3 linked regions of the Homo sapiens genome follow. The protein of the gene in region 1 interacts with the protein of each later gene in a pairwise test. Each region holds a gene or a part of one and is shown in the gene's direction. Other genes may lie near its edges. The genes, in order: CPT1B, TEX44 and GOLT1A.

Evidence for each region.
Region 2: the proteins of CPT1B (region 1) and TEX44 interact in binary tests that used the Homo sapiens proteins (3 or more experiments, as listed by UniProt).
Region 3: the proteins of CPT1B (region 1) and GOLT1A interact in binary tests that used the Homo sapiens proteins (3 or more experiments, as listed by UniProt).

Annotation. Positions count from the first base shown.
Region 1 is NC_000022.11:50,575,481-50,579,701, reverse strand, and holds the start of CPT1B (carnitine O-palmitoyltransferase 1, muscle isoform), read left to right. Parts: upstream 1-1,274; 5' UTR 1,275-1,316; intron 1,317-1,684; exon of another isoform or gene 1,685-1,767; 5' UTR 1,768-1,786; coding exon 1,787-1,927; intron 1,928-2,238; coding exon 2,239-2,378; intron 2,379-2,667; coding exon 2,668-2,845; intron 2,846-3,064; coding exon 3,065-3,166; intron 3,167-3,366; coding exon 3,367-3,504; intron 3,505-3,589; coding exon 3,590-3,667; intron 3,668-4,221. Other genes in the region: CHKB (choline/ethanolamine kinase), read left to right, coding at 195-276, 447-521. UniProt on the Homo sapiens protein: Catalyzes the transfer of the acyl group of long-chain fatty acid-CoA conjugates onto carnitine, an essential step for the mitochondrial uptake of long-chain fatty acids and their subsequent beta-oxidation in the mitochondrion.
Region 2 is NC_000002.12:231,591,438-231,594,885, forward strand, and holds TEX44 (testis-expressed protein 44), read left to right. Parts: upstream 1-1,426; 5' UTR 1,427-1,514; coding exon 1,515-2,702; 3' UTR 2,703-2,839; downstream 2,840-3,448.
Region 3 is NC_000001.11:204,203,890-204,207,536, reverse strand, and holds part of GOLT1A (vesicle transport protein GOT1A), read left to right. Parts: intron 1-3,647. UniProt on the Homo sapiens protein: May be involved in fusion of ER-derived transport vesicles with the Golgi complex.

The DNA of each region.
Region 1 (4,221 bases):
TAGGGCAGAGCAGAGGAAAGAGGGATTGGGGAAGAGGCAGATTTATCAAGCTGCAGGGAAGGTGGCTGTGGAGAGTGGAGTTAGGACAGTGGGGGAGAAGTTAAAACTGTAGGGATTGGCCAACCTGGGTGAGGGGATCCAAGCAGTGCTAGACATGCTCTTGAATGCCCCTCCTTTTCCTGCCCTCCCCCCAGGTATGCTCTGGCATCCCATTTCTTCTGGGGTCTGTGGTCCATCCTCCAGGCATCCATGTCCACCATAGAATTTGGTTACTTGGTAAGTGACCCTGGGGATGGGAATGCTAGCTGGGGGGCTGGGGAGCAGCAGCAGCCACACTCTTCCAGGAGGCCTGGGGAGTCCCGGGTGGCTGTGGGCAGCCTGAGGTGGATGTAGAATGCTGGTCCCACGTCTTCTCACCACTGTGTGGGGTGGGTTTCCTTCCCTAGGACTATGCCCAGTCTCGGTTCCAGTTCTACTTCCAGCAGAAGGGGCAGCTGACCAGTGTCCACTCCTCATCCTGACTCCACCCTCCCACTCCTTGGATTTCTCCTGGAGCCTCCAGGGCAGGACCTTGGAGGGAGGAACAACGAGCAGAAGGCCCTGGCGACTGGGCTGAGCCCCCAAGTGAAACTGAGGTTCAGGAGACCGGCCTGTTCCTGAGTTTGAGTAGGTCCCCATGGCTGGCAGGCCAGAGCCCCGTGCTGTGTATGTAACACAATAAACAAGCTTCTTCTTCCCACCCTGTCCTGGCCCTGCTGAGCAGCAGCAGAAAGTACCAAACCGAGCAGTACACACAAAGGGACTCTTCAGTGCTCTGGGATTGAAAGTGGTTAGCGTTCATGCTGCCAGTTGGGGTCCCCCATCCCTCCCCAGTCCCCTGGCTGCAGCTTAGAATAATAAATACTAGGACTTGGGGAGGAGGAGAGTGATGGGGGTATGAAGACGACCCTGAGGTGGGGATGCCGCCCGGAGCACCAGCGATCCCAGAACAGGCAGCAGCTGACACATCGGTGACCTTTTCCCTACATTTGGCTATTTTTAGCTCTAAAGCCACCATCCTCACGAGACTCTGGGGCCCCCCAGGCTCCCAGACCTTTGAGCAACCTTCACCGCACAGAAACCCAGCCGCGCCCTGCAATTCCCACCGCGGAAGGTGGGTGGGTTCTGGTTCTCGCCCCACGTTTTTCCCCGACCCCGATTTGGGAGTAGGTGTCAGGTTCCTGGTGAGGGCGGGGCGGGGGTGGCTAGGCCTGAAGGACGTGGGGACACGGGCCAGAGTGGCTGGCCCCACGCACGGACAGGAGTGAACCCGAGCTGTGAGTAGGGGCCGGCACAGGGCGGCCCGCGGGGGTCTGGGCCCTCAGCCCTGCACAGGGGCGAGGACGGCGCTGGGGCCCGCGCGCTCGGGTGGGGAAGGGCGGGCTCCCGAACCCTGCCTCTGTCCAGGCCGGCTCCACTTCCAGGGGCGCCTCTCTCCCCTGCCCGCGCCCTCGCTGACGCCCCCCAACTCCAGGCTGCCCTTCGCCGTCCTTGGGGCTCCTGGAGCTTTCAAGGCCCAAATCCCCTGCACCACAGTGGCTGTGCCCACCCGGAAGGCTGGCGCGAGGATTTGGCGGCGGTTGGCCTGGCGGGGGGCGCGGGCCGGGGGCAGCCGCTAGTCGCGGGGTGGGGGGCGCGAGGGGTCGCGGACTGGCTGGGGGCGTCTCGGCGCGGCTGGCGGCGGGGCCGGCCTAAGCGCGCCCGCGCACCCATCTGCCCCCGTCCTAGGTGCCGACCAACCCCCAGGATGGCGGAAGCTCACCAGGCCGTGGCCTTCCAGTTCACGGTGACCCCAGACGGGGTCGACTTCCGGCTCAGTCGGGAGGCCCTGAAACACGTCTACCTGTCTGGGATCAACTCCTGGAAGAAACGCCTGATCCGCATCAAGGTGCGCACAGGTGCTTCTCCCAGAGCGTAGGCAGAGGCCGGCTGTCAGCTGTTAAGCGCTTTGTTAGGGTCCCTCACTGCCTCCTTGGCTGGCACTTCTGCCCGGTACAGGTTGTGGAAGTACAGACACCAGAGGGGTGCACAGGATGTGGTCGGACACAGGGAGCTGTGGGTGTGGCGGAGGAAGGAGCACAGCAGGGCATCAGGAGAGAAAGCCTTCCAGGCCAAGACCAGGAGCCAGTTCCCAAGACTTCACAGGCAGGCTAACCTCCCGCCTTCCGGCTCCATAAGGGCGCCTGTTTCTGCCCACAGAATGGCATCCTCAGGGGCGTGTACCCTGGCAGCCCCACCAGCTGGCTGGTCGTCATCATGGCAACAGTGGGTTCCTCCTTCTGCAACGTGGACATCTCCTTGGGGCTGGTCAGTTGCATCCAGAGATGCCTCCCTCAGGGGTAAGGAGTGAAACTGGAAGGGCACAGGTGCCACCAGGGAGGGCTGGGCCCAGCTCCCAAGGCTGAGGTTCCTGAGCTGGGCAGATACAGGACAGCAGCCATTGGCAGTCACGGGGCAGCCCTCCCCTATGACAACCATTGTCTTAGCCCTACATCCGCTCATTTGATGCAGTCAGACATGAGTGTGCCCAGGGAGGTTCTTCCCCTTGGTGTCTCCCCTGAGACAGTTCACAGCCACCCGAGGCTGGCCTCAAGAGGACCCCCTGCAGCCCTTGCCCCTCTCCAATAGGTGTGGCCCCTACCAGACCCCGCAGACCCGGGCACTTCTCAGCATGGCCATCTTCTCCACGGGCGTCTGGGTGACGGGCATCTTCTTCTTCCGCCAAACCCTGAAGCTGCTTCTCTGCTACCATGGGTGGATGTTTGAGATGCATGGCAAGACCAGCAACTTGACCAGGATCTGGGCTGTGAGCAGCAGCCAGTGGAGGGGTTCAGGCACCTGGGTTGAGACTCTTTGGACTCCTTTGGGGTTCTGAGCTAGACGGGAGAGGCAGACAGGGCACTGGTGCCTGGTGTGTGGTTTGTCCTGGAGGGGCTGGGATGGCTCTGAGGGTCTCAGGGAGTTGCTGGTTGGTTTCCATTTTTTCCACTGGCTCCCACCCCAGCACTCTGCTCTGTACCCCCAGATGTGTATCCGCCTTCTATCCAGCCGGCACCCTATGCTCTACAGCTTCCAGACATCTCTGCCCAAGCTTCCTGTGCCCAGGGTGTCAGCCACAATTCAGCGGGTGAGGGCCTCGCTTGGGCATCCCAGTGGGCAGGGGAGGTTGGATTCAGGAGATGTTTCCAAATATAAGGTTCTGTGCAAAGAGTGGCCTTAAGGGCTTGAGAATAATGGGGCTGGGTGAGGAGGGAGAGGTGGGAAGAGGATTAAGATAGAGGCAGCCCTTGCCATCTGGCCCCACGGTGATGATAACTGGCTGGACAGTACCTAGAGTCTGTGCGCCCCTTGTTGGATGATGAGGAATATTACCGCATGGAGTTGCTGGCCAAAGAATTCCAGGACAAGACTGCCCCCAGGCTGCAGAAATACCTGGTGCTCAAGTCATGGTGGGCAAGTAACTATGTAAGTTCCTGCCCCTGGGCTCACTGTCACCTGCCATGTGTCCTGGCTGCACCCGCCCCAGCTCTAACCTTCCACCTCCCCACAGGTGAGTGACTGGTGGGAAGAGTACATCTACCTTCGAGGCAGGAGCCCTCTCATGGTGAACAGCAACTATTATGTCATGGTATGAACTAGAGCCCCCAGGTCCCCGCACGTGCTCAGCTCTGTCCCAGCTCCAAGGCAAGGGATCTGGAGGACAGCCCAGAGCTCTAGTAGCAGCTTCCGTGGGCAAGTGGGGGTTATGGAGTGAGGCCTGAGGGAAAGGGAAGAGAGAGAGGAGATCCTAGAAGAGTCCAGAAGCAGCTTAGGGGCAATGGGGATCCTAAGGATGAGGAGAGTGGAGACCGCCAGCCTGCCACCGCTTCTCAGAGTCCCGGGGTCACTGCCCCTGCCCAGCTCGGGCTCTGTCACCTCTTTCCTTGGTTTCCTCACTGGCCTCCTGGCCATGGGTTCCCAGCTGTCCTGACACCATAACCAGGGAATTGTCTAGAACGTGTCTTGCTTTGTGTCCCTCTGCAGAGCCGGACAGCAGAATGGAGGCCAGGCTGCTGCTTTTAGAGCTCAGGAAGTCAGTCTGCCTCTGCCCCATGTAACTGGCCCTTCTGAGTCTCTGGGTCTCCCAGCCACCTGGGCTGTATGGCATGCCTCTTCTCTCCTTTCCCACGGTCCAAAGCACAC
Region 2 (3,448 bases), on another chromosome or scaffold:
ATGCCTGTGTGTAAACTGAGTATACTAGTAGAACCGTACCTACCCAGAGGTGATGGGTGATGAGAAGGATGCTATGCGCCCTTTTCTGCCCATAAGCAGTCACTAAATGTTAGCTGATAACCCCTGGAGAAGCACAGACACGACCGACTGAGCCTTCCTCTCCAAACATCTTCTTAATGTAGGCATTTTTTTTTTTTTTTTTTGAGATAGAGTTTCGCCCTTGTTGCCCAGGCTGGAGTGCGATGGTGCGATCTCGGCTCACCACAACCTCCGCCTCCCGGGGTTCAAGCGATACTCCTGCCTCAGCCTCCCGAGCAGCTGGGATTACAGGCATGTGCCACCACGCCCAGCTAATTTTGTATTTTTAGTAGAGACGGGGTTTCTCCATGTTGGTCAGGCTGGTCTCAAACTCCTGACCTCAGATGATCTGCCCGCCTCAGCCTCCCAAAGTGCTGGGATCACAGGCATGAGCCACCGTGCCCAGCTAAGCACAAGTAGGTGTATCTGGGGTTATCCTTCTCCAAGAAACACTCAGAGGTCTGCAGACCTTTTGTTATTCTCTGCCCTTCTAGTCCAGATGAGCAAGGAGAAGATAGAGATTTTTGCCCTACATCAAAAGGGTTAAACCCACAGCCACAAATGGAGCTGCCCAGGCCCTTGGCTTTTGCTTATACCTACTCACCACTGCTGGGAAACTGATTCCCTGCAGGAACACTGACTAAATTGGGGGTGGTTATTTGTTGTTGTTTGTTGTTGTTGTTGTTTTGTTTGTTTATTTGTTTTGAAACGGAGTACGCTTTTGCCCAGGCTGGAGTGCAATGGTGCGATCTCGGCTCACTGCAACCTCCACTCCCTGGGTTCGAGCAATTCTTCTGCCTCAGCTTCCCCAGTAGCTGGGATTACAGGTGCACGCCAATACGCCCGGCTACTTTTTGCATTTTTAGTAGAGACAGGGTTTCACCATGTTGGCCAGGCTGGTCTCGAACTCCTGACCTCAGGTGATCCCCCCACCTCAGCCTCCCAGAGTGCTGGGATTACAGGAGTGAGCCACCATGCCCAGCCTAAATTGGGGTCTTGAGGCACCAGTGTAGACAGAGAGGTGCCAGGAGGGGTCCCTTATAAACACTGTTCTAAATCAACATCTGCATCCCTTCTCATTTGTCAGAGTCACAGCTGTCACTCCTCCTGTGTCCCTGTGGTTGTACTTGCCCCTGTGCACACGCCTCCAGCCCTTTCAAGAACATTTGTCATTTTTTCCCTATGTACCTGCAAAGTTGGCAACAAACTGTCCCATAGACTTAGCCCACTTGGAAGGCTGCTCCAGAAGCTCAAGACCCTTGCTCTATGGGTACCTGTGACATCACCAGTGGCCACAGTCCCTTGTGACCTCACCACTTGGACAACTCAGCCCAGCTGGGTTGCAGCCACTCCCTCCAACCGCCACAAGCAGCAAAGGGCATAGATGACCACAGGAGAGCCCTAGGGGGAGGCCGGCTCCACCAGCAGCCCCATACATGGCACTCCCAGGGTACCCCCTGGGCAACGTGGATGACAGCAGGTCTAAGGACAGCCCAGCAGGAGAGCCCCAAGGTCAGGTCCCACTCACAGCAGATGTCTTGGCAGTGAGCAGCTCTGTCGCATCCACTGACTGGCAGGATATAGATCAGGCCTCCTTCAAGACGGCCACCCCCAGGGCCATATCAACATCTGGAGACAAAGACAAGAGTGCAGTTGTTCCAGAACACGGCCAGAAGACACCCAGAAAAATCACACCTCTGCTTCCCAGCCAAAATCCAAGTCCCCTGCAAGTGTCTATGAGCCTTCAGAATCCAGCGTGGGACAGGCAGGTTCAAGACGCAAGGACAAGTCAGAGTCTAGTGGTTTTCCCAAGTCACCTCCTGGGTAAAGACAAGATGTCACAAATGGCGAGTGTTCCTGAGAGAGAGCCGGAGTCAGCCCCCTCTGCCCCGAGTGCTGAGCTACAGTCCACCCAGCACATGGAGGCTCAGCCCGTCGAGAGTGATGCTGACCATGTCACAGCAGGTGCCAATGGCCAGCATGGCCCTCAGGCTGCCAGCACCACCAAGTCTGCTGAGGAGAAAGCTGAGCATCCAAAGGCCCCACACCCTGAAGCTGAAGCTTTACCATCTGATGAGTCCCCAGTGGCAATGGGGGCAAATGTGGTGGACAGCTTAGGAGACCTGCAGACTTGGTTCTTCCCTCCACCTCCAGCAGGCAGTGTGTCCCCGTCGCCTGGCCCCCACGAGGTGGCCCTGGGGAGAAGGCCCCTGGACTCCAGCCTGTACACGGCCAGTGAGGAGAACAGCTACATGCGCTCCATGACCAGCCTGCTGGACAGGGGCGAGGGCTCCATCAGCTCCCTGGCAGACATCCTGGTGTGGTCCGAGACCACCATGGGCATGGCCATAGCCACAGGCTTCCTGGATTCCGGCCACAGCACTGTGGCAGACCTGCTGCACAGCTCGGGGCCCAGCTTGCGCTCGGTCCCCAGCCTGGTGGGAAGCGTCAGCTCGGCCTTCTCCTCTGGGCTGGTGTCAGGGACCAGCTCAGCCCTGCGCACCATCACCCGTGTGCTGGAGACAGTGGAGCAGAGGACCGTGGAGGGCATCCGCTCAGCCATGCGCTACCTGACCAGCCACCTCACCCCACGCCAGGCCCAGGCTGACCCCAACTATGATTAGAGCCCTGCACAGGGACCCCCGAAGGGCTGGTTCAGTGGCCTCCAGAGATCCCTGGGACCCTCACGCCCTGCTCCCTTGCCCATTCTTGCTCTGGACGGTTCCCCCAGCCCATGCAATAAATCACCAGTGAGCATTTATTTCTAAGCACCAGCCTCCTCCCTTGGGGTGCAGTGAGCAACACGGTGACAGGACAGGAGGGCTCGGGGTGCGGTGGAAACAGCGTCCCCTGAGGGTTTCTCAGGCTGTCCCATTCAGGGGCTGGGGGCAAACGTGCAGAGAAGAACCTGGACAGAGCTGGAGGCAGTGTGGCGGGGGGTGTCTCAGACCTGCAAAAACCCATCCCTACTGAACCTCCACCCAGGTAAGCTCCTGAGGAGCCTTCCCAGGGGCCTAGGCTGGCCTGGCGGGCTCAAGCTGAGAGGCAGAAGAGGCAGTGCAGTTGACAGTACTGAGTCACACCATGTGGGTTCAAACCCCAGCGCCAGCACTTGCCCTGGGCGAATCACGTCACTCTCAGCCTACTCAGCTGTAGAAAGGAGAGAATAAATCCATACCATGACACTGTTATAAGACAGAAGGGAAGCGATGCAGGCCATAATGCATGGTGTCTGGCACTTGATAAGCCCACACATGGTGGCTGCCATTATCATTATCCTCCGGTGAGCTGGGGGTGCAGAGGGAGCAGGAGTCTAAGCAAACCGACTGTCCTGGTTTGCCTCAGACTAAGGGGGTTTCTGGGTTGTAGG
Region 3 (3,647 bases), on another chromosome or scaffold:
AATGGGGAGTCAGGGAAGCCTGGCTTGTCCGTATCGGGTGGCCATGGGCTCTTCTTGGCAGCAACTCGGGAGTTGCAGAGCAAGGAGCTAAACAAGGGCACCAGTGCAGCCATCAGTGTACCTTGCCAGGGAGATCTAAAGCTGGTCTCTGAGGTCTGGGGAGGTCTCCACTTCTAGGTGGCGCCTGGAGAGCCGGGCCTCCCTGAAGTTACCTTGGCCTCCCAGCTTTTTTCGGCTGGGTGTAGGCGTGACAGCCCTGGCCGCCTCCAGCAGAGGGCGCGCTGCCCAATCTGTCTGGATCACGGGGACCGTGCCGGGCAGGCACACCTGTCACTCCTGGGGGCATCTGTATGACATCCCCACCCCTCCACTCTTTCTGCCATGGTTGCTGCCTGAAAAGAACTTTAGGAGTAACCTCTGGCTGGATAACTTGACTAAAATAGCTAAGCTACTCCAGAAGCAAGAGGCAAAGGCGGGTCTGAAGCTTGTGTGTGAGAAACAGAGTTTCTGACCCTTTTCTGTGGGGTTTCGTGTCCCACTGAGCACTGAGAGCACTAAGTGTGGCCCATAAAGAAGGCTGCCCCCATCACAGGAGAGTCCTGGAATTGCATCTGCCCTTAAAGAAGAGTGTAGAACAGGTGGAGGAGGGATAACTATGGCAGCCAGCAAATCACTGCTGCAGAAGAAGAAGGAATAAACAGGAGAATGGACATCATGTGTGAATGTGAGAAACTTACGCTGTTTCCACAAAATGAGTATGAGGCTGTTCTTAAGTGTGTGCAGGATGAACATATAGAAAGTTCAACAAAACGAAATGAAAACCCCGTAAAATGTGCACATCGTGTTTCCACACAAATACACCTACTGAGGGGGAGGAAAGGGTGTATAGTCAGAGCTGAAATCAATGACAGATGTTTTTATGGCAGGCATAAGCCAACAACAGATATTTTATAACAAGCATAAAAACCTAAAACACTTTTATCATTTGGGTTAAAGAAAGATGACTGTGGTCTTCCTCCACAATATTCTGACCTACACGAAATTATCTTGGTAATTCAGGTAGATGTAACTCTAGATTCTCAATGTGTTGTCTCTGAGGATGGAAATGTTGACAAAACACAACCTTCATCATGACCCATGGGGGTGATATTCTGCTGAGCTGTCCCAGCTTCTAAGAGATTTAATTCAGGCCAGCAGGAGGAGGTAGAAGTAGGAAACAAGCCCAAATAGATCACGAGGCTTGTCAGGAACACAAGGAATCAGCTTTTAGTAGAAAATGGATTCTGGGCAGCTGGGTGATATGTTGAGAGAAATTATGTTACACTGGGTCCCAACAAAATCCAGCTTCTGCCAAAAGTGAGATCCAGTAAGACTGGCATGATACCAGACTATGAGTTGAGCAAGGTTTCAGTCTATAATTTGAATGCTAGATCTTATCACTGTATTTTTCTGTTTTCTTTTTTTTTGAGATGGAGTTTTGCTCTTGTTACCCAGGCTGGAGTGCAGTGGCATAATCTCGGCTCACTGCAACCTCCACCTCCCGGGTTCAAGCAATTCTCCTGCCTCAGCCTCCCACGTAGCTGGGACTAGAGACGCATGCCACCATGTCCAGCTAATTTTTGTATTTTTAGTAGAGACGGGGTTTCACCATGTTGGCCAGGCTGGCCTTGAACTCCTGACTTCAAGTGATCCACCCACATCAGCCTCCCAAAGTGCTGGGATTACAGGTGTGAGCCATTGAGCACCTGGCTTCATTGCTGTATTTTTGATGATTCTTTTAAAGAAGCTCTTTGACCTTTTTTCTGTATTGGAATTGATCCTAATCCTCTTAAAATCTGCATAGCAACAGATGATGGATTAACTACCCAGAAGATGATTATGTTGTTTCATTTTCTTTCAGTTGTAAATAAAACTCAGCCAGTAAATCTAGTCTTGATAATTTTGTTTTTGTTTTTACAATTCTGCCTCTAAACACCAGAATAATTTTTCCCCTCACTTTTAACAACTATCTGCAAAAGCATAATAATAATACCAATTTCATAGAGGTTATGAGAACTGATTCTAACAAGTCCAGTAAAATTTTTGACGAGGGCATCAAGACCATGAAATGGGGAAAGAACAGTCTTTCCAACAGATAGTGCTGGGAAAACTGGATATCCACATGCAAAAGATGCAGGTGGATCCTTACCTTATACTATCTGCAAAAAGTAACTCAAAGCAGATCAAAGCCCTAAAAATAAGAGCTAAAACTATAAAACTCTTAGAATAAAAAATAGGGGAAAGCATTACAGCACTGGATTTGATAATGATTTCTAGGTTATGACATGAAAAGCACAGACAACAAAAGAAAAAAAAGACATCAATCAGACTACATCAAAATTTAAAACTTCACCGCATCAAAGGACACAGTCAACAGACTGAAAGGTAACCTACAGAGTGGGAGGAAATATTTGCAAATCATACGCTACATAGTTAATATCCAAAATATATAAAGAACTCCTACAACTCAACAACAAAAAGAACAACCTGTTTAAAAAATAGGCAAAGGACTTAACTAGACAATTCTCCAAAGAAGATATACACATAGCTAACAAGCACATGAAAAGATCATTAATCATTAATCATTAGGGAAATGTAAGTCAAAACCACAATGTATACTACCTTATACCCATTAGCATGGCTGCTATCAAAACAAAACAAAACAGATAAAGTATTGGCAAGATGTGGAGAAATTAGAACTCTTGTGTACTGTTGCTGGGAATGTTAAATGGTGCAGTCACAATGGAAAACAAAATGGCAATTCCTCAAAGAATTAAAAATAGAATTACCATGTGATCCAGTATAATTCCGTTAATTCCACTTTGTGGGGTATATACCTGAAAGGATCGGAAGCAGTGTCTTGAAGAGATATTTTCTTATGCTCATATTTATGGTAACACTATTTACAATAGGTAAGAGATGGATGGAAGCCACCCAGATGTCCATCAACAGATGAATGGATCAACAAAATGCAGGGTACAGATAGCAATGGACTATTATTCTGTTTTAAAAAGGAAGAAAATTCAGACACATGCTACAACATGAAGGAACCTTGAGAACGTTATGATAAGTGAAATAAGACAGTCACAAAAAGACAAATATTGTATGATTCCACTTATAGGAGGTTCCCAGAGTAGTCAAAAATTCATAGAGAAAGTAAAATGGTGGTTGTTGGAGGCTGGTGGGAGGGGAATGGGGAGCTACTGTTTAATGGGTGTAGAGTTTCAGCTTTGCAAGACGAAGAATTCAGGAGATGCGCTTAATACCACTGAACTGTACATTTTTAAATGGTTAGATGGTAAGTCTCATTTTATGTGCACGTTGCCACAATTTAAAACTTAAAAAGGTAACAATTTAAAAACAAAGCAACAGAATGAATTTTTATTTATTGACTATCATAGTGGCAAAGATAAGTAAAATGAACAATTCTGAGTGCTGGAGAGGGTTAAGGAAAAAAGGAACTATATATCCGGTTATTGTACAAATCGTCTTGAGGGGAGCGATCTGAAATATGTTTATCAAAATGTCAAAAATGTAGCCCTTGACCAAACGAGGGGGCCTTCATGTCCTGCACTTCTAGGCTACGCTTGCTGGCTCTGAGTGAACTC